3 linked regions of the Homo sapiens genome follow. The protein of the gene in region 2 purifies or fractionates together with the protein of the main gene of each other region. This does not show direct contact. Each region holds a gene or a part of one and is shown on either strand. Other genes may lie near its edges. The genes, in order: PSG9, SMAD9 and DSG4.

Evidence for each region.
Region 1: the proteins of SMAD9 (region 2) and PSG9 purify together in Homo sapiens (affinity purification with mass spectrometry; 3 studies listed by BioGRID and IntAct, with this or other methods). This does not show direct contact.
Region 3: the proteins of SMAD9 (region 2) and DSG4 purify together in Homo sapiens (affinity purification with mass spectrometry; 3 studies listed by BioGRID and IntAct, with this or other methods). This does not show direct contact.

What each region holds. Positions count from the first base shown.
Region 1 is NC_000019.10:43,250,951-43,261,137, reverse strand, and holds the end of PSG9 (pregnancy-specific beta-1-glycoprotein 9 isoform 1 precursor), read left to right. Parts: intron 1-2,002; coding exon 2,003-2,281; intron 2,282-2,681; coding exon 2,682-2,936; coding exon of another isoform or gene 2,937-3,181; exon of another isoform or gene 3,182-4,028; intron 4,029-6,217; coding exon of another isoform or gene 6,218-6,285; exon of another isoform or gene 6,286-7,454; intron 7,455-7,491; coding exon 7,492-7,529; 3' UTR 7,530-7,856; downstream 7,857-10,187. UniProt on the Homo sapiens protein: Binds to the small latent transforming growth factor-beta complex, consisting of the N-terminal TGFB1 latency-associated peptide (LAP) and the mature form of TGFB1, thereby leading to the activation of TGFB1.
Region 2 is NC_000013.11:36,845,511-36,855,948, reverse strand, and holds part of SMAD9 (mothers against decapentaplegic homolog 9), read left to right. Parts: intron 1-2,273; coding exon 2,274-2,530; intron 2,531-3,431; coding exon of another isoform or gene 3,432-3,611; exon of another isoform or gene 3,612-7,129; coding exon 7,130-7,273; 3' UTR 7,274-10,438. UniProt on the Homo sapiens protein: Transcriptional modulator activated by BMP (bone morphogenetic proteins) type 1 receptor kinase. SMAD9 is a receptor-regulated SMAD (R-SMAD).
Region 3 is NC_000018.10:31,385,766-31,396,203, forward strand, and holds part of DSG4 (desmoglein-4 isoform 2 preproprotein), read left to right. Parts: intron 1-922; coding exon 923-1,054; intron 1,055-2,601; coding exon 2,602-2,757; intron 2,758-3,108; coding exon 3,109-3,253; intron 3,254-4,890; coding exon 4,891-5,057; intron 5,058-5,312; coding exon 5,313-5,447; intron 5,448-6,389; coding exon 6,390-6,575; intron 6,576-10,438.

The sequences.
Region 1 (10,187 bases), on a different chromosome or scaffold from region 2:
ACCTGCCCTCTGCAAAGGGAGAGGGAAAATAAAAAACCCTGGATAGGGAATATGTTTCTGCTCCAAAACCACCAGCTTTTGCCTGTCCCTTCACTCTTTCTAGATCATTCTTTAGACTATACACTAACAATGAACAATCTGAAAGGAAGTTAAGGAAAGGATTTCAATTCACATTAACATCAAAAGGAATAAAATATTTTGGAATAAGTTTAACCAAAAAGGTCAAATGATTATACCCTGAAAACTACAAAACATTGCTGAAAGAAATTAAAGATGATATCAATATATGGAAAGACATTTCATTTTCATGGATTGGAAGAATCAATATTGTTAGAAAGACAATACTACCCAATTGAGTTGCAGATTCAATGCAACCCCTACCAGAATCCCAGTAACATTTTTTGCAGAATTAGAAAACTCTGTCCTAAATCTGACCTGACAGGATCTTATTAATGACTGCCACAACACAAACACTGAGAAAAAGATGCAACCAGAAAAGGTGGAAAGTTCTGATGACAAAGAAAATAGCAATCAGCCTTTCTCACATCCCAAAGCTTTAAAAAATATATGAGTGCAGCATGGCCAGTATGGAATTGACCAAAAACTAATCATCAAGCTAGAAAAGTGGTGAGAGAAAAAAAAAGGGCAAGAATATCTTTGGCTTATCACCTCCCACTTTTGCCTACTAATCTGATGCTGAAAAGAAATGCTCACTGAAGCATTTTAGATTTTGAATCTTTCAGATTTGGGATGCTAAACCAGTAAGTATATGACAAATATTTCAGAATAAAAAAATGTCAGAAATCCAAAACACTTTTTGTCCTAAGACTTATGCATAAGAAATACTCAATCTGTGTGAACTATAGGCATCAAGCTCTACAGCAGATCTCTAGAACCTCCCCACCTTGCATAACTGAAACTGCACACCCATGAACAATTTCTGATTCTCCCCACTCCCAGCTCCTGGCAACCAGCAGTCTCTTCTCATATTCACTCTGGAATCCACTTACATGAGGTCCCTAGAGTAGTCGAACCCAGGGGATCAGAGAGTAGAATGTCCAATGAAAGAAAATATTTGCAAAACTTCTCTCCAAGTTTGTCTCATATCCATCAAACACACATGGTCCATGAGGACCAGATTTCCAGCAGTTCATTCCCACACTTTCCACCAGTCAGTTCTGCATTTGCAAATGTCCACATGTATTTCTGGAAAGATCCACATGGTCCTCCTCTGCCCTCTGCAGAAGGAGAGGAAACTTAAAGAACCCAGGACAGAGAACATGGTTCTGCTCCAAAGCCACCAGCTCTTGCCTGTCGCCTTCACTCTTTCTAGATCATTCCTTGCACTCTGCTCTATGTTTAGAGGTCACTGGTTCAAGTAAGTCATCATGAAACACCTGCAAAAAACTGCCCCACCTTGAGCCTCCACTGCCTGATGACTGAACTGACCTCCAGGCTTGACTCTGGTCTCCTCTGTGTTATTTCTGCTGAAACATCCAGTCCCAGGCCAGGCTGCTAAGTATCTTCAGGGTCTCAGGACAATGGGAAGTCCCATTATTACTCATCTCTAGAACATCCTTAGAAATGGAAGCTGCAGAGAAATCACATATAGGGGGGCAAAGTAGGATGGAATTTGGAAGGGGCCCAGCAGTTGCACATTCCAGGTAAGGAACCCAAGGTGAGCCAGCCAGTCAACTGATTAGGGAGGGACTGGGAGGGGTACCAGGGGCTGTGACTCCCACTGATGTGTCTGTCCATGACCCAACACTGCTGCTCAATTGACACTTGAGAAAGTCTGTGCTTCCCTAAGACAGAGCAGGCGGCCTCACAGTCTTTGAGCCCTTAGATCATCATGCATCTGTCTTGTGACACACGCACCAGCTATTGGCTTTCAAGGACTCGGGTGGGCTGAGAGGTGGGAGATGCCAACTCTGATTGAAGTATGCCTGTGGAGGAATCAAAGGTGCCACACAGGACAATCTTCTCTCTGTTATCCACACAGCGAAGCTGCCCATCCCCTACATCACCATCAACAACTTAAACCCCAGGGAGAATAAGGATGTCTTAGCCTTCACCTGTGAACCTAAGAGTGAGAACTACACCTACATTTGGTGGCTAAACGGTCAGAGCCTCCCCGTCAGTCCCGGGGTAAAGCGACCCATTGAAAACAGGATACTCATTCTACCCAGTGTCACGAGAAATGAAACAGGACCCTATCAATGTGAAATACGGGACCGATATGGTGGCCTCCGCAGTAACCCAGTCATCCTAAATGTCCTCTGTGAGTATCTTTTGTTCCTCTGTGGGCCAGGACACCAGCTTAAGTCCAAACGACCAGATGCCAGGCCTCTCAGTCTCTCTCCGGTCCAAGTATAGACACCTTTACTTCTAGACATCCGAGGTGGCCATGACTCCCTGCCCTGGGAAAACCTGGGTAGGCACAGCCTTAACCAAGAATATAAGGGGAGTGGATGCTCTTGTCATGGGAGACTTGGGGCCCACAGCTTGTGATGGGAGAAACAGGTGAATACCTCAGGCTTCAGCTCAGTGAACATAGAGGGACTTTGGCTGGGACTTGAGGGTGTGTCTTGGCTCAGAGGGTCACTGTGTCCCTTTAAGAGACCAGGAACATCCCCTTCCCTCGAATGACATCACGTGTGGCTTTATTCTCTTTCCTCCAGATGGTCCAGACCTCCCCAGAATTTACCCTTCATTCACCTATTACCGTTCAGGAGAAAACCTCGACTTGTCCTGCTTCACGGAATCTAACCCACCGGCAGAGTATTTTTGGACAATTAATGGGAAGTTTCAGCAATCAGGACAAAAGCTCTTTATCCCCCAAATTACTAGAAATCATAGCGGGCTCTATGCTTGCTCTGTTCATAACTCAGCCACTGGCAAGGAAATCTCCAAATCCATGACAGTCAAAGTCTCTGGTAAGTGGATCCCAGCATCCTTGGCAGTAGGGTTTTATGTGGAGTCTATCTGGCTTTCAGAGAAGAGTCAGGAAAACATTTTTATTCCCAGCCTGTGTCCCATGGGCACAAGCAAATCCCAAATTCTCCTCCTGAACCCTCCCAATTTGTCTCTACAGACTCTCTTCTCCTTGTTTTTCTGTTTTCTTATGGCTGACCTTGTGTCTGGCCTGAAAAAGGTAGGGAGGGGGCTTTATCAGCCCTGAGCCCTATGTGGTAGAAGAGGCTTCAGAGAGGGACAAGAAGGAGAGTCCTCAAGATCAAGTTGCTTCTCGCTGTCACCGACACATCCCCTTCTGCCACGTCTTTTTTTTCTTGTACCTATTCCATGAGCTACAAGGGACAGCTGAGGCTTTGAAACAAGCTCACACTTTTCCCCCAGATGAGAGGAGGAAGCCCCTTGGGTGAGGGAGGAGCAGCTCAGACTCTGCTTCCTGCTCTGCTCCGGGCTCCTCTGGTGACTGGCCCTGCCTCACTCAACCTGGGGTGGGACTAGCGTGTGTGTAGAAAGGGCCCTGGTGGCCTGTCCTGAATTTGGCTAAATTGAGCTGCCAGTTGAAGCCAAGCCTCCCCCGGGCCAGGCTGCAGGGAAATAAGAAGAGAGGGAGCCTCAGGGCAGACTCCTGAGCTGCGTCCTGGCTCTGAAGTCACCAGCTGTATGAGGCTTTGGGCACAGCACGTGGGACACAGCACGGAGGACAGTGACTGATGCAGAGCTGGAGGAATAGGGAGATTCACCGTTGGGGTTATTCATGGCAGGAAAGGGGCAGTGCCAAAAAGTGTGTAATTATAGAGAGGGTAAGACTACCAGACACTTTATATATATCTAATATAAGACTTACCATTAACTATTTCTATGTGTGCAATTTAGTGTTGTGTAACCATCACACTATCCATTTCCAGAACTTTTTCCTCTTACCATATTAAACCTCTGTACCCAATAAACAGTAACTCTCACTCCTTCTTCCCCTAACCCTTAGCACCCATCATTCTACTTTGTCTCTATGTAACTGGCTATTCTAACTATCTTTTATAAATGGAATTACATAATAATTATCCTTTTGTGTCTGGTTTATTTCAGTTAGCATAATATCTTCAAGGTTCATCCATTTTGCATGATGTATTGGAATTTTATTCCTTGTTAAGGTTGAATAACATTTCAATGTATAGATACACCTCATTTGCCTACCCACTTATCTTTCAATGGACTTTTCAGTTGTTTCCATTTTTTCGCTAGTGTGAGTAATGCTTCTCTGAACATCAGTGTACAAATATTTGTTCAAATTTCTTTCAATTCTATGGGGAGTATGTCCAGAAGTGGAATTGCTGGATCAAATGGTAATTTATTGTTTAATTTTTTGAGAAACAGCCACACCACTTTTTACAGTGGCTATAACATTTCCCATTCCCATCAGCAATGCACTAGAGCTCCAATTTTTCCATCTACTTGCAAACACCTGTTGTTTTGTGTTGTTGTCATTGTTGTTGTTTATCAAAGCCATCCTAAATTGTGTGAGGTGGTGTAGCATTGTGGGTTTGATTTGCATATCTCCAGGTATTCGTGATGCTGAGGAACTTTGCATGGGCTTATTGGATATTTGTATATCTCCCTTGGATAAAACTCTATTTTAATCCTTTGTTCATTTTTTAATTGGGTTTTTGGATGTTTGTTGTTGTTGACTTGTAGCTTTTCATGTATTCTGGAAATGAATTTCTTATCACACATATAATTTGCAAATATTTTTATCATTTCGTGGGTTGCCTTTTTACTTTCTTGATAATGTTCTTCGACATATAAAAGCTTTGATTTTTGTGAAGTCCGATTTATCCATTTTATTTGTTGCCTATGCTTTTGTTGTTACAACCAAGAAATCATTGGGAAATCCAGTATCATGAAGCTTTTCTTCTAAGAGTTGTGTAGTTTTTCTCTTACATTTAGATCTTTGATCTATTGTGGGTTAATTTTTGTACATGGTGTTAGGTAAAGGTTCCAATCTTCTTGCCCTTGGATATCCAGCTTTCCCAATATCCTTTGGTGAGAACACTGTCCCTTCCCCATTGTAAATGCTGAAATCAGGAAGTGTGAGTCCTCCAGCTTCATTCTTCCTCTTCAAAGCTGTGTGTCTATTTAGAGTCATGAGATACAATATAAATTTTAGGACAGATTTTTCTTTTTCTGCAAAAATGCCACTGAGAATCTGATAGGAATTGTATTGAATCTGCAGTCACTTTGGGTAGCACTGTTCTCCTAACAATATTGAGTCTTCCAATTCATGAAAACAAAATGTCTTTCAATTTATTGATGTCATCTTTCATTTCTTTCAGCAATATTTTGTAGATTTCAGGTATAATCATTTCACCTCTTTGATTAAACTTATTCCTAAATATTTTATTCTTTTTGATGTTAATATAAATTGAAATTTTTTTCTTAATTTCCCTTCAGATTGTTCATGGTTAGTGTATTGAAATACAACAGATGTTTGAATGTTGATTTTGTATTGTGCAACATTACTGAATTTATTTATTAATTCTAATTAGGTTTGTTCAATCTTTAGGATTTTCTACATATAAGTTCAAGTTATCTATAAACAGAAATAATTTTACTCCTTCCTTCCAATTTGAATGTCTTTTTTTCAATTCTTGCCTAATTTTTCTGACTAGACCTTTCAATACTACGTTGAATAAAAGTGTCAAAAGCAGGCATCCTTGTCTTGTTACTGCTCATACAGGGAAAGCTTTCAGTCTTTCTCCATTGAGTATGATGCTAGCATTGGGTTTTTCACATATTGCCTTTATGTTGAGGTGGTTTCCTTCCATTCTTAGGATGTTTTCATTATGAAAAAATATTGAATTCATCAAATGCTTTTATTGATTCAATCTTATTACTGATTATAGTTATACTCATATTTTTGTGTGGTTCTAGGAGTTGGTCCATTTCATCTAGGTTATCCAATTTATTGGCATACAATTATTTATAGTACTTTCATCATCATTATTTTATTAGAATTGGTAGTAATCGCTTCATTTTTCTTTCTTTCTTTCTTTTTTTTTTTTTTTGGAAGAGAGAGAGACAGGCTCTCACTCTGTAGGCCAGCCCAGGATGGAATACAGTGGTGTGATTACGGCTCACTGCAGCCTTAACCTCCTGGGCTCAAGCAATTCTCCTTCTTCAGCCTCCCAAGATGCTAGGACTACAGGTGCATGTCACCATGCCCAGCTAATTTTTTTTTATTTTTTTGTAGAGACAGCATCTCCCCAGGTTACCTATGCTGGTCCAAACACCTGGTCTCAAGAAATCCTTCTGCTGTGACCTCCCAAAGTGCTAGGATTAAAACATGACCCACCATGCTCAGAGTCCATTTTCATTTCTGATTTGAGTAATTTTAAACTTTTCTCTTTTTTTCTTAGTCAATCTAGTTAATGGTTGTCAATTTTGTTGATTTTATTTTGAAGAATCAACTTTTGGTTTCATTAATTTCCTCTATTCTGTTTCCATTCTCCATTTTATGTATATCCACTCTAATCTTTATTATTTCCCTCATTCACTGTGCTTGGGTTTAGTTTGTTCTTCTTTCATATCCTGAAGTATTAAAGTAGGTTGTTGACCTGAGATCTTTCTTCTTTTTTAATGTAAGAGTTTACAGTTATAAATTTCTTGCACAAGACTCAACTTCTCTGAACCTCTGATTCCTTACCTGAAAATTGCAATGAGAGTACTTTCTTCTTACCATTGTTTTAAAGGTTTAATGCAGTCAATGAAACAATATGCCACACACAGCGGAACCAATGTCAGCTGCTATATTACTACCATCATCATTAGCCTTGAGGTCAAATAGTCCTAGAATCAAATCTCAGATCCACCTGTCACTAGCCATATGACACCAGGAAAGTTTTTACACCATGCTAAGCTTCTGTCTTTTCATCGGCAAAATGGAAATAATGTCTATGTGACAGGGTTATTGTGTGGCTTAAATGAGATACAGGTAAAGTATTGAGCACAGGGCCTGGCACATAGGAAGTGCACCTCAACAGTACCTACCTTTTTCCATATATATGGAAAAAGAGGTAACACATAAAACACTAGGACATGGTTACTGACTACTTGTGGGAGAGAAAAAAAAAGCTAAGGGCAAAGAATCAAGTCTGGTATGTTAGTTTTTACCAACTGAGATGCATCCAAGATGGGATTAGACATACAAGGTAATTTATCAGGGAAGACACCTGTGAGGGAATGTGGAGCAGGCATGAAGGTAGTATGGGAGAACCCACAGAACACTATGCAGAGCTGATTCCTGTGAAAAAGAAAGAGAAAGAAGTTTTAGGTACCAATGCAGTTCTAAGAGTATTTGCAAGGCTGATGGGGAATCCTCCAACCAGCCACCCATTAGAGTTAAATAGAGCCTCAGAGAACTAGGCTTGCTTTCACACCCTTCCTGGGAGCCTGTAGGAAAGAAGCTTTCTGTGTAAAGGAGGTAGTGAATTTGAAATGCACTGACCTGGGCCTTCTGTCAATCAGGTCCCTGCCATGGAGACCTGACAGAGTCTCAGTCATGACTGCAACAACTGAGACACTGAGAAAAAGAACAGGCTGATACCTTCATGAAATTCAAGACAAAGAAGAAAAAAACTCAATGTTATTGGACTAAATAATCAAAAGGATAATGTTTTCATAATTTTTTATTGGAAAATGTGCTGATTCTTTGAATGTTTTATTCTCCAGATTTATGAACTTTTTTTCTTCAGCAATTGGTAAAGTATACTTTTGTAAACAAAAATTGAAATATTTGCTTTTGCTGTCTATCTGAATGCCCCAGAATTGTGAAACTATTCATGAGTATTCATAGGTTTATGGTAATAAAGTTATTTGCACATGTTCCGTAAGAATCTGCTCTCTTTATAACAGGACACATTTGAAAACATTGGTTATATTACCAAGGCTTTGACTGGGATGTTATATTTGAGAATATACATAGAATAAACCCATAGGGAATGCAGGCAAAGTCTGAAGTGGGCCTTGGTTTGGCTTCCTAGTCTCAAGAGGTTTTTGGAAGTTTCATCTGAGATTCTTATTAAAAACTTCTAGCAAAGAGAAGTTTAAAAAGAGCCTCTATGGTCCATTGCTACTCTTGCCGCACTTAGGTAAAAAATCTGGGCAAGTTCGGTGAGACTCAACCTATTTTGCAAGCAAATTCATCTTATTGGAATTATCTTTGGTAAAAATAGAGACTCCGATAGAGAGAAAAACTAGCTGAAAAGAAAAACTGTAGTACACCTGTTACCAGATTGAACCACTGTTCATTATCTTTGAGTATTTATAATCCACTGGTAGACTGGACTGGACCCTGAATTCTTTTAGTTCTTCCAATTCAGTTTTCTCCAATGAAATCATTAAGAACAAGAGCGGCTCTGTTCCTGAAGCCATATAAGGTGGAGGTGGACAACTCAATGTAAATTTCATGGGAAAACCCTCGTGTTTGAGGTGGGGGCCACTAAGAGCTCACCAAATGTTCAACACCATAACTTAGAGACACTCAAACTGCAAACCACGACAAGCTGATGACTTTACACTGTGGACAGCTTTTCTCAAGATGTCAGAACAAGACTATCAGTCATGATGAGACTCTTACCTCTCTTAATTTGTCTTTGCTTTTGCCTGTCTCCTTTGCTTCCCAGAATAATGCTGTACTTAGGATTTCACCAGAAATAGCCTCTGAGAGTAAGTTAACAGTGTCAGATATATCATGTCAACCACACTTCGTTTTTTTTTTTTTAAGATGGAGTTTCGCTCTTGTTGCCCATGCTGGAGTGCAATGGCACAATCTTGGCTCACAGCAACCTCCACCTCCTGGGTTCAAGTGATTCTCCTGCTTCAGCCTCCCCAGTAGCTGGGATTACAGGCATGCACCACCATGCCCAGCTAATTTTGTATTTTCAGTAGAGACAGGATTTCTCCATGTTGGTCAGGCTGTTCTCGAACTCCTGACCTCAGATGATCTGCATGCCTCAGCCTCCCAAAGTGCTGGGATTACAGGCATGAGCCACCGCACCCAGCCCACACATTTTTACATAACAAGACATCCTTTAGTCCACACAAAGGCTGACGTTAGCTGCATCTGTAACACAACTTTTTCCTCAAATGTATGGAGTTTTTTTTAGGCTTCCACTTCTATACTTGCCTATTCTCACTCCCTGTTTTAATTTAACATAGACATGCAATGCTAGATAATAGAATTGTTCTCTACCAGCTGGACAGCGGGGAGTCTGTGCAGTTTCTGACACTTCTTGTTGCACATGGATAAATACATCGGGTATTATAGAGACTCAGTTGTAAAAATCAATAAATGTGCTGCCTGGTTAAAATGACTAGACTCTTCTGGCTTCTTCTTTGATCTATCCTATTGTAGTTGGTTTGCATCTTGCCTAAGGTGCATATTCCAAACTCTTGATATTTTCCTCCTGATAGTCATACTGGTATTCTCCCTCATGTGGTGGAATCTACAGATGTTTTTATTTCTGTGCAAATATTTGTGTGCAGCCATTCTTCAAATATCAAACGGTTTCTCTTGTGCTGGAATTACAAAAACTCAAAGAAATGTGTGATTTATGGGCTGGGTGCAGTGGCTCACATCTGTAATCCCAGCACTTTGGGAGGCCAAGGCAGGCAGATCACAAGGTCAGGAGTTCAAGATCAGCCTGATCAATATGGTGAAACCCTGTCTCTACTAAAAATACAAAAATTAGCCAGGCATGGTGGCGTGCACCTGCAGTCCTGTAGGGAGACCCCCAGAAACTACTGCTACAGAATAAAAGATGAAATGCTCTTGATTATTGTAAATACAAAATTGCACGCAGGATTGTGTAAACACAATGACAGGTTGGGCTGCGAGAATGAGCCTACAGCACGGGATGTGCTTCTGTTACATGGATGGGAGATAGAATTATGAGTTTAGAACATAGATTACAAATGCAACCTGATTGGAACACTTCTGATTTTTGTAAAACTCTGTTCCAATATAAAGAGTCTGGTCACAATCGGGAATCAGTAATATGCCATTTACAAGGAAGTGAAGATAATTTAAGTTTAGACATAAGCAAGCTGAAAGAACAGATTTTTGAAGCTTCTCAAGCACACTTAACTGCTTTACCCAGTGCTGAAGTTTTAGACAGTATCTCTGAGGGGTTATCTAATCTCAACCCCATTCAATAGGTAAA
Region 2 (10,438 bases):
GCGGAGAAGGGGAGCCAGTCTCTGACTGAGGAAGAGGAGAGGCAGTGACAGGACAGTCGTGGACTGGATATCCAGGGCTGTGCTTTAGCTGTGCGACCCTGGCTCAGTTTCTTCAGAGTGATGTGGTTGGGATACATACTACTCAAAATTGTTCTTTTCTAAAATTTTATTAAGGGAAAAGGAAACAATAAATATGGTGGGATGTAATCACATATAATGCAGAACTGCCTCAAGTGCTACTTAGGACCTGACAAAGAAACTCCCAGCAGCTATGTCAGTAACGTTTCCTAGATTCAGAGTCATGCACACGAGGCCCTGAGCAGCCCTGGAAGCTGTGAGTTCTGTTCTTTAAAAGTTTCACAATTAGACCCCAAATATATAAGTATATTCTGGATTGTTTCTACAAACACCTTATAACTGCATAGTGATCATATGTATAATCACATTGACTTCTAGTGCTGGAGACTTTTTTTTCCCCATCAAAAGTGGGAGTAAAATTGTTCTGATATTTAATATTCACTAGACTAGAATTTCTTCATTTTTTTCTAACATCAGTCCCTCGCTATACATTTATATTAAATCTCAAACCCAGACATTTAGAGGGAAAGGATCAACTAAAATTTAATTTGGAATGGAAATTAGCATGAGCAGCAACATTCTCAGGATGCTTTTCTTTTTTTTTTTTTTTTTTTTTTTTGAGATGGACTCTCACTCAGTCGCCCAGTCTGGAGTGCAGTAGTGGCGTGATCTTCGCTCACTGCAGCCTCCGCCTCCCAAGTAGCTGGGATTACAAGCGTGTGTCCCCATGTCCACTTAATTTTTGTATTTTTTAGTAGAGACAGGGTTTCACCATGTTGGCCAGGCCAGACTTGAGCTCCTGATCTCAAGTGATTCACCTACCTTGACCTCCTAAAGTGCTGGGATTGCAGGTGTGAGCACCCAGCCTCAAGATGCTCTTTTGAACTTTAATTCCAAGAATATTAGATAAAGTGATGTAGGCTATATTTTGCTTATGAGTTTTTATATTACTGTATCTGAAAATGTAGAAATTTCACTTCACAAATCAAAATAGACATTATTTATATGATTTATATTAGTGGATGACAAATTTAATTGAAATAGATCTCTGAGGTATTTGTTAAGAGAAACAGATTTATAAGTATTGGTAAATTTTTTAAGTGTCTTTTATTGTTTCCTCTGAGGTAGGTTTAATATGTGCACTTAAGTTACATTTTCATGATATTAACTGTGTCCAGTTTTAAATTTTAAAATTTGTGGGCTGGGTGCAGTGGCTCATGCCTGTAATCCCAGCACTTTGGGAGGCCGAGGCGGGTGGATTACTTGAGGTTGGGAGTTTGAGACTAGCCTGGCCTGGCCAACATGGTGAAACCCCGTCTCTACTAAAAAACAAAAATTAGCCAGCTGTGTTGGCGGGCACCTGTAATCCTAGCTACTCAGGAGGCTGAGACAGGAGAATCACCTGAGCCCGGGAGGCAGAGGTTGCAGTGAGCTGAAATCGTGCCACTGCACTCCAGCCTAGGCGACAGAGCGAGACTCCGTCTCAAAAAAAAAAAAATAAAATTTGTGTATGTACAATGAAGGATTACTTGATTTTTTTGTGTGATATATTCACTTCATTTCTAATATTATAAAACCTTATTTTTGGAACAAATAAACAGGAATGATGGGAGGAATAGTATATGAGACCTTACTGACTGGTTCTTGGGAGTGATTGTTAACATGGGTTGCAATCCACTTTTATTTTTTTATTTTTATTTATTTATTTTTTTGAGATGACATCTTGCTCTGTCACCCAGGCTGGAGTTCAGTGGCGCTACCTTGGCTCACTGCAACCTCTGCCTCCCAGGTTCAAGCAATTCTCCTGCCTGAGCCTCCCGAGTAGCTGGGATTACAGGTGCCCACCACCATGCCTGGTTAATTTTTGTATTTTTAGTAGAGAAGGGGTTTCACTGTGTTGGCCAGGCTAGTCTTGAACTCCCGACCTCAAATGATCTGCCCACGTCGGGCTTCCAAAGTGCTGGGATTACAGGCGTGAGCCACCGCACCCAGCTGCGATCCACTTTTAAATGGATTTGTGGAAAAAGCACAGATTATCATTAAACTAAGCGGCATTTAGGTCACACATCTCATTCATCTGATCAGTGATCTGACAACCTGATGGGAGAGTCACATCTCCTAGGGTTTCAGGAATCAGTGGGAGAGGCACGCTATGAAAGGGCATGTGAAGGAAGGCTGTGTTTTTGTGTCTGCAGGTGTGCACTTGTACTACGTCGGGGGAGAGGTGTATGCCGAGTGCGTGAGTGACAGCAGCATCTTTGTGCAGAGCCGGAACTGCAACTATCAACACGGCTTCCACCCAGCTACCGTCTGCAAGATCCCCAGCGGCTGCAGCCTCAAGGTCTTCAACAACCAGCTCTTCGCTCAGCTCCTGGCCCAGTCAGTTCACCACGGCTTTGAAGTCGTGTATGAACTGACCAAGATGTGTACTATCCGGATGAGTTTTGTTAAGGTAAGGAGTGCTTGCTATCACGTTATAAAATGTTCAGTGAAAAACAAAACAAAAAAGCACCCTGACTGATGTGGCAGGCAGTTGTGCGGTCAATTCTGATAGACAAAACCAATTTATTATTATTATTATTTTTTGAGACGGAGTTTCACTCTGTCACACAGGCTGGAGTGCAGTGGCATGATCTTGGCTCACTGCAACCTCTGCCTCCCGGGTTCAAGCGATTTTCCTACCTCAGCCTCCCGGGTAGCTGGGACTACAGGCACGCACCACCACGCTTGGCTGATTTCTGTATTTTTAGTAGAGACAGGGTTTCACCATATTGGCCAGAGTGGTCTTGAACTCCTGACCTTGTGATCCTCCCATCTTGGCCTCCCAAAGTGCTGGGATTACAGGCGTGAGCCACCGCGCCCAGCCCAAAACCAATTTTTTTGAATTCTATTGTTTTTAGGAGGAGTTCCTCTTTGAGTATAAACTGTCTTGTTTAGCAATTATATGAAAATTGTTACACATTACTTTTGAGGAAAAACAAGGTGGCTATTTGATTGTTTTTAATGCAGATGATAAAGTAACAACAGTAATTTTACAGGACTAGTGCAACAGAGATTTTTTCCATCCTTCCAATTGCCAAGCACTGTTATCACTCAGTGAATGTTGGTGAATTTATCTGAATTCAGTAAGATACTCTCCTTACTCTTAGAAAGCATACAGGCACATGGAGGAGATAATATTTATGAATAAGCTACAAAAATAGGCAGGGTTGGTTCTAATACAAGATAATAAACTAAGTAGTGTTATAAAGGTATAAACAATTTGGAATAGAAACGGGTGTGATTAATTCAGAGAGCAGTATATGTTCTGTTGATGAATATTTGTTGAATTTCTCATATCGAATCTTATTAAGGTTGCTATGAAGGCTGGAGAACCAAGGAAGTTTCTTAGTGGGAAGGAAAGACAACTGGGTTTGTATATGGAAGTGAAAGCCTTCAGTTTCATCACCTGCTATTTTGTCTGTTGCAAAGTACTCGCAAATGAGTCTAGTATTTCAAAATATGGGCTTATCAAAGTATCGGGGTATGTGTGACAGTTTTCTTACTGCCATGATTCCATCCAGGGAATCAGCATGGCTTGTTCCAGGCATTTTTTTCAAAGTAAATTTTATTAGCACTTTAAAATTACCATGACAAATAATTTTTCTATACTCAAATTATGTTTTTATTATCACTTTAGTAATTATTTAAAAAGTAAGAACAATATAGTTTCCAATTTTAAAAAACAGCTGCTTGAAATTATTTCTCTTTCATGGTGACAAAGCAGTTTCATTCAAATTTAGTGTTTTGAAAGCATATATTATAAAGTTATATTAACAAATAACTTCGAAATCTTTTCAAATGTTCTGTTGCTTTAGAAACGGCAGAGGGCATCATTTGAATCATACAGTTTTTTTTTTTTCCGGGTCTGTGTTTTTAAAATTAGGATGAAATGCCAATATCTCATAGGTAATTATTTCACTCTGATTAAATATAAGCTTATATAGAAATCTGATTTTCCTAATAACTAGATACATTTCTCAGATAGGCAGCATTTACATTCATAAAGCTACACAATTGACACAGAAGACAAACTGTTCCTAATACTGCAGGAACTTTTAAAATAAATACATAGTAAATATAACTATAGATCATTTTTTTTTAACATTTGAGATGAGCAGCTGTAGCTACCACTGGGCTGATGGATCAGATCTCTTTAAGGTTTCTTTCAGCTCTGATTTTTACTGATTCTAGGACTTAGTCAGTCAACAAATGTTTATTGAGCACCTGCCATGTGCAGGCCAGGCACGTGGGACATGCCAATGTTTACTCACAGATCTCTGACCTCAGGGAACCAATATTCTAGGAAGGAGAGATGGATAATAAACAACAGCCAAAACACAGAAGAAGGATGGAAAGAGAAAGTCTGGGGGCAGGGTGAAGGGAATTGGAGCACGGGGGCAGTGGAGTCATCTGCACATGAGGGTGGGCCTCATTGAAAAGGTGACAGGTCAGCAGAGACTGGAAGGAGACATGGAGCTAGGCCCAGGGACCCCTGGAGGAAGAGCAGAAGAAGAGGGAAGAGCAAGGCAACAGCATACACCTGGAAACTCTGAAGAGCAGGCAGGCCAGTGTGGCTGGGGCCTAATGAGCAGGGGAAGTGAGATGAGAGCAGCCGCAGGGAACCATAGCAAGGCCTCCTGAACCTCTGCTACGAGTTCAGCGGTGACTGTAAGGAGGTGGCGAGCTTTTGCAGGGATCAGAGCAGAGCATTTTCATGATCTAACTTCTATTCTTAAAGGATCGCCCTGCCTGCTGTGTGGAGGATAGATATTATACAGGCAAGGTTGCAAGTAGGGAAACCACTTAGGAGGCTATAGTAATAGTCAGGTGAGAGTCGCCCCCACCTGGAGGGATCCAGTACAGCTGTGAGAAGTGGAAGGATTCTGAATTGTGAAGGCGGATCAGGCGTGGGAGAAAAAGAGGAAGATGAAGTTAGTTGCCTTCAATCAAGATGGAGAAGACGCAGGTGTAATTGAGATGTCCGTTGCATTCAAGTGGAGTTGCTGAGTAGCCAGTTCGATATAAGAGTCTGGATTCGGGGAGAGAGGTTTGGGCTTGAAATACAAATTTGGGAATTGTCTGCAAAGGGACCGTATTTAACTCCCTAAGTGTGGATGAGAACACCAAAGGTTTGAGTTTAAACTGAGAAGAGCCGGGCGTGGTGGCTCATGCCTGTAATCCCAGCACTTTGGGAGGCTAAGGTGGGTGGATTGCTTGAGGTCAGGAGTTCAAGACTAGCCTGGCCAACATGGCAAAACCCCATCTCTACTAAAAATACAAAAATTAGCCAGGCGTGGTGGCGCGTGCCTGTAATCTCAGCACTTGGGAGGCTTAGGCAGGAGAATCGCTTGAACCTCGGAGGCAGAGGTTGCAGTGAGCTGAGATCGCACCATTGCACTCCAGCCTGGGTGACAGAGCCAGACTCCATCTCAAAAAAATTAAAATAAATAAATAAGAAAGGGGGCTCTAGGACTGAGCCCTGGGACACTTCAACATTTAAAGATGGGACAGAAGGGACAGAATCAGCAAAGAAAACTGAGAAAGACCAACCAGTGAGGTAGTAATAAGACCAAGAAGTGTGGTGCTTTGGAAGCCGAGAAAAGACAGTGCATTGATGAGAGGATGTGATGAACTAAATCAAATGCTGCCCACATAACACAAAGGCTGAGAGCTGATCATTCATTTTAACAATATGAAGGCCTTTTTTGATCTTGACAAGAAAAGTTTTGTTGGCGGCTGGGGTGAGATGATGATCAGAATGGATTTAAGAGAGAATGGAAGGAGACAAATTGAGATGGCTAGTATGGATGACTCTTCTGAGGGTTTTTGCCAGAAATGGGATAAAAACATAGGGCAGTAGCTGGTGGGGGGTGGAGAAGTATCTTGAAGGTGGAAGACATTTCAGTGTGTTCATATGTTGACGGGAATGATATAGTAGACGCAAAAGATTGCAGGAGAGAAGGGGAAGATTTGCTGGAATGATGTCTCTGGGAAGGCAGGTCTGAGAGTGCATTAATGGGTGGACCAGCTTATTTGGAAACACAAATAATTAATCTGTGGTAAGAGGTAGAAAGGCCAAGTATGTGGATGCAGGTCCTGTGGAAACTTATTTCTGATGTATTCATTTTTCTCATTAAAATACAAAATAAATATCAGTTGCAGGTATGGACAGGGAAAAAGGGGTTGCAGGTTTTAGTGGGGAGGAGCGATCACCTAGGAGGGGGACATGAGAGAAGGGACTGGGGGGTGGGTTGTGACTGCCGGGGACATCACAGGTCCACTTGAGGTTCTCAGTCATGAAAGTAAAATGTGATCAGGCAGCATGGTTGTGTTGAAATCCAAGTTTTAAAAAACTCTACAGAGAATCACTGCTCCCAGTCACAGAACTGATTTACTTGGCTGTGATCTCCCTTCATTTTTAAATATCCTTTCATTGATATATAACATATAGAGAAAAATATGCAAATTAAAAAAAAAAATTTTAACTGTCTCTCCTTTGAATGGTGATAAAAGGGAAATTGCCAGTTGAACTAGAGAGAGAGAGAGAGAGAGAATAAGCAAGCTTTGATAATGAGCCCTGAAAAACCAAGAGCGCCTTCCAGTTCTGTCTTTACCACTTTCAGGTCCAGTCACTGGTCTGCAGTAACCATTTTGTGCAAGACACTGTCCTGGGCATGAAGGGGTGAACAAAAGGTCAAGTTTCTTCCTTTGTGGAAGGGAAAATGATTTTTCAGTGCTTCCCGTGTGACTGGAGTGCCAGAACCTCTCTAGATCCGAGTATTCAGTTGTGAACCCTGAGGGAATGCACTGATTTGGATTCATCTGAAGGCATCTGGTTGGTGTGAGAGTTGACCTGTGTTTACAGGAAGGTAGAGGCCATGTTCTCTCCCTCTCAGGTCTCAGGAGCTACGCTGGGGTGTGGGCTCTGTGCCCCGCTGAGCTCTGCCTGGGGCTCTGGAGGCTGAGTGTAAGTGTGGCACCATCACTCAGCTCCTTTCTTGTTTTTCAGGGTTGGGGTGCTGAGTATCATCGCCAGGATGTCACCAGCACCCCCTGCTGGATTGAGATTCATCTTCATGGGCCACTGCAGTGGCTGGACAAAGTTCTGACTCAGATGGGCTCTCCACATAACCCCATTTCTTCAGTGTCTTAACAGTCATGTCTTAAGCTGCATTTCCATAGGATAGAGGCTATTGCAGGGAGTGGCTTGTATCATTTCAGATTTGCAACTGAAGTTTCTAAAAACATGTGTAAATACATAGAATGTATACTGTTCTTATTTTTTTTAATCACCGTTTGTTTTGTGCTTTCTAGTTAACCTGATGCCAGTACAGTGCAATTGGAAAAGCAGGACTTTGGTGCCTGTGCTATAAGCAGCAGATTTTGTGGGAGGAAACACTTGAGAGGCGATATTGTCAACAGTATTTGAAGGGTGTTAGCAGAATAAAAGACAGCTTTAGTCAGCCGTGTCATTATAAAGCATGTTGTGTGGCCTCACAGAAACATTGAAACTGTTTATACAGCAAAAGTCAGGTATTAGCAGCACTAAAGCAAATATCACTCAGATGAAACAAAGCAGTGAAACCCCTACAGTTTAAATGATGTCACTTTTAGTGCTGTTGGCAAGAAAAAAAAAACAACAAACTTGTACAATGAATTAATGAGATAGGCCATAGAAACTTTATTTCTAAGGTTGACATACCTATAGCTGGGCTCCTGTGCTCATATTCAGTGGTACATTTTAAACAAACTGTGATCGGAAAAGAAAAAAAACTGTGAAGCCAAAAGTCATGTTCCCTCAGTCTACCACTGTAAAAACAGAGTCTAATATGGGAAAATAAATATGAAAATAGCATGAAATGCTGTTTCCCAGATTGCAAGATAAGACCAGAACTTGGTCCAAGAGCCAGCCACCCAGGGAGACTCCTGCTTTCCACAGAGGAGACCAGGTTCCTGTCGTGCTGGTTGTTCGTGTCAGGCAGTCCTGCAAACTTTGAGTCTGCGCAGCGTGCCAGAATAGCTTGTGTTTCAGTCCTGTGTCAAGAAGCAGGTGAAACCAAAGGTTGGAGAAAAGCATCACACGTCGACTTACACTTTCTCATTTCCCACGTTCCAGTCTCCTGGGAAGGGCACTCTTTCGCCACGTTTTCCTGCCTCTTGGCAAATATTAACTCTTTGCAGATCACTAAAGCAACAGTAAAGACTTTGAGAAAATCTAGACACATTATTGGATCAATGAGTTATTTAACCTAGTGTCTAGTGATTATCTAACCTGGAAATAAATTCCCAAGGAAAGTGATAATAATTTCATAATCATCTGCAATTTCTGGGGAACAGTGGTACTGAATAATAAGACATCTTTTAAAAATATACACAATATTAAAAACCTGTTCTTATTTTACTTTAGATGAGGGAGGAAAATCCCCCAAATTTCTAGGTACTTTCATATATATACTTGCCATGCACTAAACACTGCATTGCTTGGAAAAATATTTCACACCCTCTTTAAAAATGTACAATTTAAGATGGCAGTTATGCTTGTAACAGACAGCACTTCAGTAATCCAAGAAGTTTCTTCATTTATACATTTTATCTCAACTCTTTCTAGCATTAGTGCACATGGTAGTTTTTCTAATTAAATTGTATTCAAGGTAGAAATGATCATGTGAGAAAGATATATGATTGAGCTACTACTGTCACCTCTTACAGTTACTAGTGTTAGCTAATAGAAACTTTCATATATACACATAGAAAAGAATTATTACATTTTACATTGAAAAATGTAATATATGGCCCATGTAGTGTATAGAAAAATCTGTAGTTTATTGGTTCATCAACTATGTATTGTGCACCTACCTATGGGTGTCAGGTACAATGTTAGGTACTGTAGAATCAAATGTAAATAAGAGACAGTCCCAGCCCTCAGGGAGCCGAGAACCTAATAGTGAATCTGTTTGTACAGACATCTTCATGTTTCAGAACTTTTAAAACAAAACAAAATAATGTAATCTATCATCTTTTGCTTGAAAGAATGTGATTGATTTCTTATCTCTGTTTTGAAATTATTTCCTTACTCTTCTGCAAAGTCAGGTAATGGATTCCTTGTATAAATGCTACTTTTCTTCCATGTCTCAAAGTTGTTTTTTTTCCTCCCCTTTCTTCCCTGTTTTCCAATAATTCTCCATGTCCCCTTTTCTTAGAAAAGGCATTAATATGGTGAATCTTGTATGGGAACCATTCCATGGGAGAACTTCAACACAGTTTTTGCTCCAGAGATCAAACATAGCTTTCGTGATCTCTCTACCAGCTATCTAACTTATCCTCTGGTAATCTTTTTTTTTTTTTTTTTTTTTTTGAGATGGAGTCTCGCTGTGTCACCAGGCCAGAGTGCAGTGGCGTGATCTTGGCTCACTGCAACCTCTGCCTCCCGGGTTCGAGTGATTCTCCTGCCTCAGCCTCCCAAGTAGTTGGGACTACAGGCTACCACGCCCAGCTAATTTTTATATTTTTAGTAGAGACGGGGTTTCACCATGGTAGCCAGAATGGTCTCTATCTCTTGACCTTGTGATCCGCCCGCCTCAGCCTCCCAAAGTGCTGGGATTACAGGCGTGAGCCACTGCGCCCGGCTTCCTCTGGTAATCTTACACCTTTACAGAATTAATCTAAACTGGTGGCTCATAAATGACATTAAAAACAAAAAAAAAATCTGGATGCAGTGGCTCATTCCTATAGTCCCAGCACTTTGGGAGGCCAAGGCGGGAGGATCATCTGAGCCCAGGAGTTTGGGGCTGTAGTGAACTATGATCATACAACTTCATTCTAGCCTGGGTGACAAAGTGACACCCTGTCTCTAAACAAAAATCAAGAAACAAAAAACTTGTATTTCCCTGCAGCTTTGGGAAGCCAGAACACAATATTGCAGTGAATCTGAATTTTCTGTGACAAATAAATTATTAAATTGGCACATATGATCATCACCAGTCATGTCTCATCAAAAGCCTTTATTATGATGCTTGTACATTTTGAAGAATTTAGAATTAATGAGAAGTTAACCCTTTAGTCATTGTAACACAATCATATTTTAATCAGCTTTTTCTTTTGCTACCAAGAGTTTCAAAAAATAAATGCAGTATTTGATTTCAGGCTGCTAAATGGGCTCATTTAGCATTCATTCCTTGATGTAGACATTAAAAAAAAAACTGAATAGCATTCTTTCCAGGATAACTAATAAAGCAGACATGCTAAGCCTATAAATACATCAGCACTGCAGCACACGTTTAAGGTTGCCACGGACAAGGATCACACAATAGAGAACACT
Region 3 (10,438 bases), on a different chromosome or scaffold from region 2:
AAAATGGAGAAATAATGTAAATACTCTGGTTGTAATATATGCTTCATTCAGTGGAACACCTCCTTCCCCCAAAGTGGTAATTAAATGAAGCTTAGCCTAAGTAAACTTATAATCACCTGTGTTTCAGGGGGTACATTAGGACTTACAAAAATAAATACGTGCATATATATAGTTTATGCATGTATACAAATAGGCTTGCACATGTAGTGACATTTCTAATCTCATTAATAGTATGAAATTCTTAAGTATACATCAATAGCAGCAACTTAAGGCTACGAAAGAAAAACCATATAGCAAGCACAGATACAAATGACAGCATTGCAAAGCCTTATAGGTGTCCATGGGATTATTGGAGGAATCATCAATTCCTCCAATATTAATAATATGTTTCTAATTCTGCAAAAATATACTTGGGTGCTTAGCCACAGTGGTGTCCTTATCAACAGAAGAGAAAAATGCTCTTCTCTCTTTTAGGTGAGCACGACTCACCAGCACAACTTTTATGTTATATGGGATGTGCATACATGGAACAATGATAATCTTTAAACTCTGCAGTCTGTAAATTCTGGTGAAAGCTCAATGAAGGGTGAGATAGGCAAGGCTCCTATATGGTGAAGATAGATTGAGAAAAGGAAAACTGCACAACTTATACAGTATGGCACATCATGAGCTCCTCAAGTAGCTAATTAAATTTGTTTCACTAGAATCAAATAATTGGAACCAAGATGATTCCAAAAGAAGTGGCAGCCAGGGGTAACCAAGCTATCTATCTATCCAGAGTTGTGAATTGGTGAAAACATTCTCTGTTCTTCAAATTCAATATCACTGTTTCTTCTAAATGCACCTTACAATATTAAATAAATGTCCTTTCTAAGTAAAATTGTTCTCACACTGTAAGACACCTGAACCATTTTTGCTTAAGGTGAAGGAATTTGACATTGAAAATGGCACTACAAAATGGCAAACAGTCAGAAGACAAAAGCGGGAGTGGATCAAGTTTGCCGCAGCCTGTCGAGAAGGAGAGGACAACTCGAAGAGGAACCCCATTGCCAAAGTAAGTGATGAAGCAATCTGATGACAAATGCTTTTGCAGAGCAGGGAAGCTTTCAAATATCTCCAAGATTTGCAGGCTTCACTGCTCCACAGTTATTTAAGAAGACAGAATGTGGTCATTTGCTCCAGTTGCTGAGCCACTGATTTGAATATCATGTGCAGGGAGGCTGACGTGGGGCAGGCAGTCAATGGCAAGTGATTCTAGAAGAAAGGGCTGGATCTCCAGCACAACTGGGCTTTGTTCATCCATTTGTGTACTGCTCATTATTGCCTGTCAATGTCATAGGAAACGTATTCACATAGTGACAGTCTGAAGCCTGGCCCTCCAGAAAGTCAAGCCAAGTTTACTGCACTAGATGAATTAACTCCAGGAAAGTAAGGATAGTATCAAAAGTTCCCACCAGATCTCTACATCCAGAAAATAAGAGAGTCTTATAAGACTTTCACAAATAATGCCTACTGAAAAGGAAGGAGAGTTAAAGAATGTGTAATAAATTGATCCAGGAAGGATGGGATCCACATTAATAGCTTCATTCACTCTTTCTGGACATCTTGATCCTGAACAGTAAAGTGATCTGCAGAATTCCCTCCTTCCAGCTTTATATTAAAAACATAGTAAGCATCAGCAGTGGTGTTACAGATACAACCTCAGCTCAAGAAAACAGATGTATTCTCTCTCAGATGTTTTCAAATTGGAGGGACGCTTTTAAATTATTATTTCCATTCAACTCAGTAATTGCTTTATGTTATTCCACTTATATTGCATATTCTTTTCTTTTTCTCTGCATTTTGGGAGGTTCTTGAGTTTTCTTCTATGTAAAAAGGGCCTTTGGATTAGAGTTAAGCTAACCAAAGTTCTATTTCCAGCAGTCTTTATTTGACTGTGAATGTGTGGGTAAAAAATCTTACTATTTTACTGAATGCTCTTATCGTTAGTATATAGGTGAGATTTCAAAATTGTTTCAGTTTAAATTTATCAGCAATAGGTAATAAAGCTACTAAAGCAAAATCTGTGTGGCAGAATATTTGCCATAAAATCTATTTGGCAGAAAAGTGATGCAGTATGTTTACATTTATAAAATTATTACAAATATCTCTAACCATTATAGTTTTCTGATATTCTCAACTTATCTACCATTTTGACTAAATCTCAGACTCCAGCTTAGGTAGGATACTTATTAATATGACACAAGTTATTTTTAAAAAATAGTAAATGTTGTAATTTCTTTTGTGAAGCTATTTCTGCGTATGCTAAAAAATCAGAGAATTGAACAATGTGTTATTAACAACAAACCTAGCACCAAGTGTGTATGTTATACACATTACCTCATGTAATTCCCACAACAAATCTGTGTGATATTATCCCCACTGTAAGCTGATCTGGGCAAAGTTAAGTAAATTTTCCAGGGTCACACAGGACTAAGTCATGGTGTCAGGTTTCAATCCAAAGCCCATTTGGTAAAGAAACCCACTCCCTTCTTATTCCACTACACTCTTAAGCATTATCTGCTCTAAACTGGATCACAATCCTAGCTATTTTTCTTATAGATTCGATCAGACTGCGAATCGAACCAGAAGATAACATACCGGATTTCTGGAGTAGGGATTGATCGACCACCATATGGGGTATTCACCATTAATCCTCGCACTGGGGAAATTAACATCACTTCAGTGGTAGACAGAGAAATAACTCCACTTTTCTTGGTAAGTCATAGCCATATGTTTTGATTTGTTCATATTAGTTTTCTTCCCTTTTTCAAAAAATATTATCTTAAGATAATGGATTACTTTTGATAAAACATGGCAGACTGAACCCAAATAGAAGACTTGAAGGAATGGAAAGAGTGTGAAAATAAAAGTTTATAGTTCAGGATTCTCTGGTATGTTGCATGTACATGTAGTCAAGTGTCCTGATCATATTTAAATTATTTGACTGTACTACAGTCTGAATTCACTGGAAAAAATTGTTTCTTTGCCTATTTTCTGATATATTTTCAAGCATGTTACTAAAATTCCTTTGGTGGAAAAAGATGGCTTTTTTCCAATTTTCCACAGATCTATTGCCGGGCTCTGAATTCACGGGGTGAAGATTTAGAAAGGCCTCTTGAGCTTAGAGTCAAAGTTATGGACATAAATGATAACGCTCCAGTCTTTTCGCAAAGTGTATACACAGCCAGCATTGAAGAAAATAGTGATGCCAGTAAGTAGAATGACATTCCTTCTCTACGTCACAGCATATCTACTTCTCTTGGTCAAAAGCTTTAGAGGACTGACATACAGGAAATGTAAAGGACAGAAAAAGCCACACTTGTATTTTGAATAAACCCCACATATTTTAATTTATAACTGAGCTAGAAAAAGAAATCATGTCTAAAATGATAAAATAAAATATCTTCTTACTTGCGGAAGGTCCCTACAGGGATTTAGCAGGTGCTTAGCACCTTGCTTAAAGATTGCTACTGGGCTCATGAAGAACTAAATCCAAGCGAGCAAACTGAGGAATAAACCAGGAATGTTTAAGAAGGCTCTGTTCTGGTCTCTTACTCAAAATGTTTGGCTGACCCACACCAGGTAGAGCGTGATGGTGGAAGCACACGCAATTGTACCCATCAGATCAATCACTAAGGGTAATCATTGATCTTCACAGACTACATAGCAAACTACATTCTATTCTCTCATTTTCTTTCATTTCTTTCCATTCCACTTAATTCCATTTCCAGTTCTAATACCCTCTGTCTTTCCTTTATATTAATTCTCCTGAACTTCTTTCCTTCCTACTCTTATGCTTTTCTTATATGGCTACTTTCCTATCTCTCCTCTCCCTTTGCCTTCTGACCTTGATTTTACATACAGCACATGAATATCAGTTTGTTCCCCAAACCCCTGTTGTCCCTTTCCCTTTCAAATCTATGTCTGCCCATATACCTCTAAACAAATTTGGGGGGAAATAATAGGAAAAATAAATTTCAGGAAAAAAGGCAGATAAACACAAAATTTTTTTTTGAACTAGGATAGTCCTCCCATAGAGAGGCAAAGAGATTTTGCCTAGGAGAGCCAACACAAAGAGAGACTCCGAAGTCCATCTTTGCTTCCTCATCAACACACCTCAAAACAACACTGGTGAAGGAAGAGAAGGTGAAACCCACAACCAAGTCTCCCTGCCTAGGAAGCAAAAGAACATCAGGGACCTGACAATTCTGAAAAGTCTGTCCTGTAGATTGACATCCTTGGGGATTTGCCTAAGATACCTGTTCTTTCTACCTATGAGTAATTAGGAACTTCTTATATTGCTATGGACAAGTCTTCTTTTCAATAATTATAAATTTGTGACTGTTTGGTAAAATGCTATCTTCCAATGCAACCAAGAGTAATTATCTGCTTTCTGGAAAAGTGGCAATTAAGAATATAGGTGTTCAATACATAATTATAATGTTGCATTTAATTAAACTATAATTTTCCTTAATTAAGCATTTTTAAATGATTTCACAAGACCATGGCAAAAAATAAAACAGATAAAAATCTGTTTATTCAGCTATATGATAAAGAATCTATTGAACTTCTTTTTCGTACTTTAAAGAGAACTATGTTTAGCCACTAATTTAGTATTTAATCATTTAAGGAGTGCAAGTACTTTTAAAACAGTAAAGGGTTTTATAAAGCAAACCACATTTTTTTTAATCACTGGTAGAGCTGAAAGTTATGGTACTATATTCCCATGGAAAACTCAAACAGAGAGAATTCAGGAGAAGGCCAACCACTCTGTCTTCTTATGCCTAATGATTTGCTGAATTTATTCTAAGAGTCCCAACCATTCTCCACCTCCATTTCTATTTCTAGATACATTGGTAGTAAAGTTATGTGCCACAGATGCAGATGAAGAAAATCATCTGAATTCTAAAATTGCCTACAAGATCGTCTCTCAGGAGCCATCAGGTGCACCCATGTTCATTCTGAATAGGTACACTGGAGAAGTCTGCACCATGTCCAGTTTCTTGGACAGAGAGGTAAAGCCTTCTGTGAATGAACAAGAACTAAAAAATTCAATTTTGAAAAGACAAAGATAAAATGATCCATGTGTACCCTTACTCCAATATAAAGGAGGGAAGAAAAATAATCCATTTTTAATAAAAATTAAAAGCTCAATTATATAAATTTCATTGGATATGTAAATAAAAGAGTAGAGAAATAATGGCATTGAATGCATTGGATTCTATTCAAGACAAAACCTAAGTCTTACGTTCTTTTTCATCTTGATTAAGCAACACAGTATGTACAACCTGGTTGTGAGAGGCTCAGATCGGGATGGAGCTGCAGATGGACTGTCTTCTGAGTGTGACTGTAGAATCAAGGTTTTAGACGTCAACGATAATTTCCCCACCTTAGAGAAAACTTCAGTAAGTTTGTATTCTTATCTTCCTTTTTCCATAAGTGTCAATAATCAATTTGCATAAGTGTCAATAATCAATCATGCTGGCTCATGAGCCTGGTTCTGTCCTATGTGTGGACATACTCAACTTTGTTATAGAAACTTTGGAATTTCTTATGTATACTAATATACCTTCAAATTGTATGTTTGTCTTTGACTCACTACTCCAAACAAGCCTTCTCTGTGAAAGCAACGAACTATCTATTCTGTATACTCTATTCACAGAAACACAGAAATCTGTTGATCTAACTCTGGGAATAACATAGCAACATTAATGTTTTTGTATATGCCTCATGATTTGCTGAATGAATTCTACTAGAGTCCCAGACAGTCTCAACTTCCATTTTCATCTCTAAGCATAAAGAAGCATAAAATCCACACTAGCAGGGCCAAATCTGGCTTGCTGTCTGTTTCGGTTTAAAAAAAAAAACAAAAAAACAAAACAAAAAACGTGTTATTGGAGAGCATAGCTGTCCTCATGCCTTTACATATTGTCTATGGGGGCTTTGTGCTGCAACAGCAGACGTGAGGGGTTGCAACACCAATTCTCTGGCCCACAATATCTAATATATTTACTATTCAGCCCTTTACAGAAAAAAATCTGGTCCTCTATCTAAAAGAAAAGAATAAATAAAGAAAATTAACAATAAGCAAAAATAAATAAATAAATAAAAGAGAAAGGAACAAAGTGCTAATTTGACCTTGATTTTACATACAGCACATGAATGTCAGTTTTATTATCTTATAATCATTTTATTCTTATTCTCCTGATTGGACTATGGGCATTTAATAATGGTGCAAAAATCATCGACATAGTTTGTTGTTAGTATTTTAAATAATAATAATGTGTTTTAAGTACGTTTCTTCTTTTGAAAATTCATTGACTACAAAATTGATCCTTGCATTTTAGTACTCAGCCAGTATTGAAGAGAATTGTTTAAGTTCGGAACTGATACGATTACAAGCAATTGATCTTGATGAAGAAGGCACTGATAACTGGTTGGCTCAATATTTAATTCTCTCTGGAAATGATGGGAATTGGTTCGATATTCAAACAGATCCACAAACCAATGAAGGCATTTTGAAAGTTGTCAAGGTACAGTATAAGGATCTGCAATATTTTCTTCCAAAATATTTTATTCCAAAGAAGTTTTAAATGACCTTAGAGACAGAATCTGCCTTTAAAAAAAAGTACTTCATAACTTTGAATATTGTTTATATCAAGGGTCCTAAGTAACTGCTATGTCAGTCTGAGTCTCCTAGCTAGCAACACAAAACTTATTACCAAGAAAAATATGAAGACTGTTTTGTTCTGACAGTGTCCAATATCTAGTTGTGAAGATAAGGTAAGCAACCCCAAATTAGAAGATATATGGGAGTTCACAGTGCAATAAATAATACAGATGTCATGATATAAAACATAATTAATTGCCAAGGGAGTGGAATATGAAATAATGAAAGAGATAAGAAATGGTGAGATCCTTCTGAGCTAGATTTGTCTGAAAAGATTTCATGCAGGAAATAAGGCTTAAGCAAGATGTTATAGCTAAGATTGCTAATGTGGGTAATAAAATAAACAAACACAGAGTGAGAAAACATGAAGCAAGTTCAGGGCATGGTGAGCAACCCCGTGGGGCTGTAGTGGGGCATCAAGTAGGGAAGTAATCAGAAGTCAGATCAGAGAAGTGAAGCTGAAATCGATCTGCTGAGAACCTTGCATACTGAAATACCGGCTTTGATTTTTTTCTATAGATTAATTTTTCTTTAATTACTTGCTTTTAATTCACAGACAATGATAAAACTGAAAAATTTATAATTAGAAACGAATAAAACCACAAACCAATAAGATTCAGATTAACATTACTGTAATGAGGGAAATTGTTATTTTTTAACAAAGGAAATTGCTGCTAACAACATAAACAACACTTATAGCCAGGAAAATATATATTAAGACATATATGTACACACATATTTTTAGCTTACTACACAGTGTGATTGTGGAATTTACAGTGTGATTATTCAGTTCTGTTACTATTTTTCTCTATTCAAGCACATAAGGCTCTTTTTGTGTTACCATAAAGTAATAGCTGAGACTGGGTAATTTATAAAGAAAAGAGGTTCAGTTGAATCACCATTTTGCAGGCCATACAGGAAGCAAAGTGCCAACATGTCCTTCCAGTGAGGGCCTCAGGAATCTTACAATCATTGTGGAAGGCAAAGGGGGAGCCAGTGCATCACATGACAAGGGCAGTAGCAGAAGAGAGAAGGGGGAGGTCCTAGACTCCTGTAAACAACCAGATCTCGCAAAAACTCATTTATCACCAAGGCTATGGTGGTAAACCATTCGTGAGGGATCTGCCCGATCACCCCTCACCAGGCCCCACCTCCAACTTTGGGAATCACATTTAAAGATGAGATTTGTGGGTGACAGACATCCAAACCATATCATCAAGTTACTGTGAAGTTTTTTCAGATAGCATATTAGGAAGCCATTTAGCCTTCTGGAAGCAAACATATCGTTTATTCATTGGGTCTTTCGCTTTTCTTTCTCAAGTATCTGAGCAATTTTAGTATTACTACTTTACCACCAAAGCACAACCATACACACTGAAATCATATGGTATATTAACTTAAGAGCTGGCCACCAAAATTATGAAAAATATTTATATATAAGATTGTCATCCAAATGAATACACACAATTTTATAATTTCTTAAGTGAACACAAGGACTCAAAGAGTATATCATGGACTTTCTGTTTGGAAAACATTGCTTTGGGCCAGAGGTCAGCAAACTATGATCCAGAGGTCCTCACCTGTCCCCTGTTTCATAAATAGTTTTATTGGAATACAACCACATACATTCATTTACGTATTTTCTGTGGCTGTTTCCACACTCAAGTTGCTGATATGAATACTTGAGATAGAAACTCTGTATGATATGACCCCTAAAACCTAGAACATTTACTATCTGGCCCTTAACCAAAAGTTTTTCAATTCCTACTTATAGACCAAGGAAAGCTTTGGGATATTTTCTAAAATAACAATAACACCGGCCTGGCAAAGTGGCTCACGTCTGTAATCCCAGCACTTTGGGAGGCCAAGGCGGGCAGATCACCTGAAGTCGGGAGTTTGAGACCAGCCTGACCAACATGGAGAAACCCCATCTCTACTAAAAATACAAAATTAGCCAGGTGTGGTGACACATGTCTGTAATCCCAACTACTCGGGAGGCTGAGGCAGGAGAATCGCTTGAACCCGGGAGGCGGAGGTTGCAGTGAGCTGAGATTGTGCCATTGCACTCCAGCCTCGGCAACAAAAGTGAAACTTAACAACATGAGTTCAACTCTGAAAAGACCACAGTTATAAAAATTATTATGATATTAATTAAGTTCTGAGGTACTAAGCATCTGATCTAAGGCAATGGCAGTAAAAATGGAAAAAAAAAAAAAAAGGAATGGGTATAGGAGACATTGCCAAATACAATACAAAGAGGAATAGAGGAACAAGAGGTCACCTCCCACCATATCAAATTCTGAATATTTAGTCAAGTTTTTCTTCCAGGGATCAGAATTTGTTAAACCTTGCATCCTGGTTAAAAATCAAGAGCTAGACATAACATGCAATTCTTACCTATGTTCTTATCATCTTAGTGACTAACTTTGTATATTATCTCATAATATGTAACTGCTCTTTGCTTTTGTTCTGTCTCCCAACCTACTAAAATAATAGAAGAATTTTGTGCATAAAGAACCTGATCTAAATATCTTTCTACCCCCAGCACCTGGTCCAGTGTCCAAAAGATAGTAGAGACTCACAAAATTTGAGAATAGTATTGATGATACTATTTACCTGAAACTAATGGCATAGATATCATCCAAACAGAAGTCACTGGACTTGATTGCATCATTCGTAACTTCTGCATACAATTATAAATATGAAAAAAATTAACAATGCAGGCAATGTACTATCTGACTTATGTAATGTGCCTTCTGTGATAACAACTTTTTTAAAGATATACTTAATTGCTAAAAAAAAAAAAAAGCTATTGAAATATCAATTTCATGAAAAATTTGTCAAGGTAATTTGGATGCTGTATATACAAAGCCCTATCTATTTTTTTCTGAATGATAACTTTCCAAATCTCTTAAAAAGAGTAAGAAAAAATGTGCTTAAAAATACCAAAGTAATGGAGAAAGGCTAATTAAAATGAAATTTTAAACCTTGATGTTTGTATTACTACCTAGCCAAAAGAACTATTTTAGAGAACATAAGCGTAATTTTCCCATGTTTGACATTTTCAACAGCTGGTGGTCAGCCTCTCATTCCAGATACATCTGGAATGAGGTTACTAATGTCCTCTTACACCTTCTCCATTTTCATTCGGGATACCCCTTAACCCTGAGGAAACTGGACTTTTGACTAAGCTTTATATAACCCTTCTCTTAGTCTGAGGAAATTACAAAGACTCAATTCAAAGGATTTAAGGTGGCTCGTGCCTGTAATCCCAGCACTTTGGGAGGCCAAGGCGGGAGGGTCACTTGAGTCCAGGAGTTCGAGACCAGCCTGGACAACGGGGTGAAACCAAGTCTCTAGCGAAAGATGGGTGTGGGGCGGTCACCTGTAATTCCAGTTACTTGGGAGGGCTGAGGCATGAAAATCACTTGAACGCGGACCAGGGAGGCAGAAGAAAAATAAGGATTTATTGAGAATTGCTATGTGTTAAGGACATGAAGGCAAATAAGATATGGTCCCTGTTCTCAAGGAATTTACAGTTTAACAAGAGAAAGATCTCAGAAAAATGAAAGTCTCTCTGTCAATAACAGCCTCTCCTTGGTATTTATTGATAAGTGTATATGAAAACGCAAGCAATAAAAAAGTGTGTGTGTATATATATATACATATTTGACTTCAACACTGAGAAAAAAGCAAAGCAAAATGCTACCCAATTGGAATTCTAAC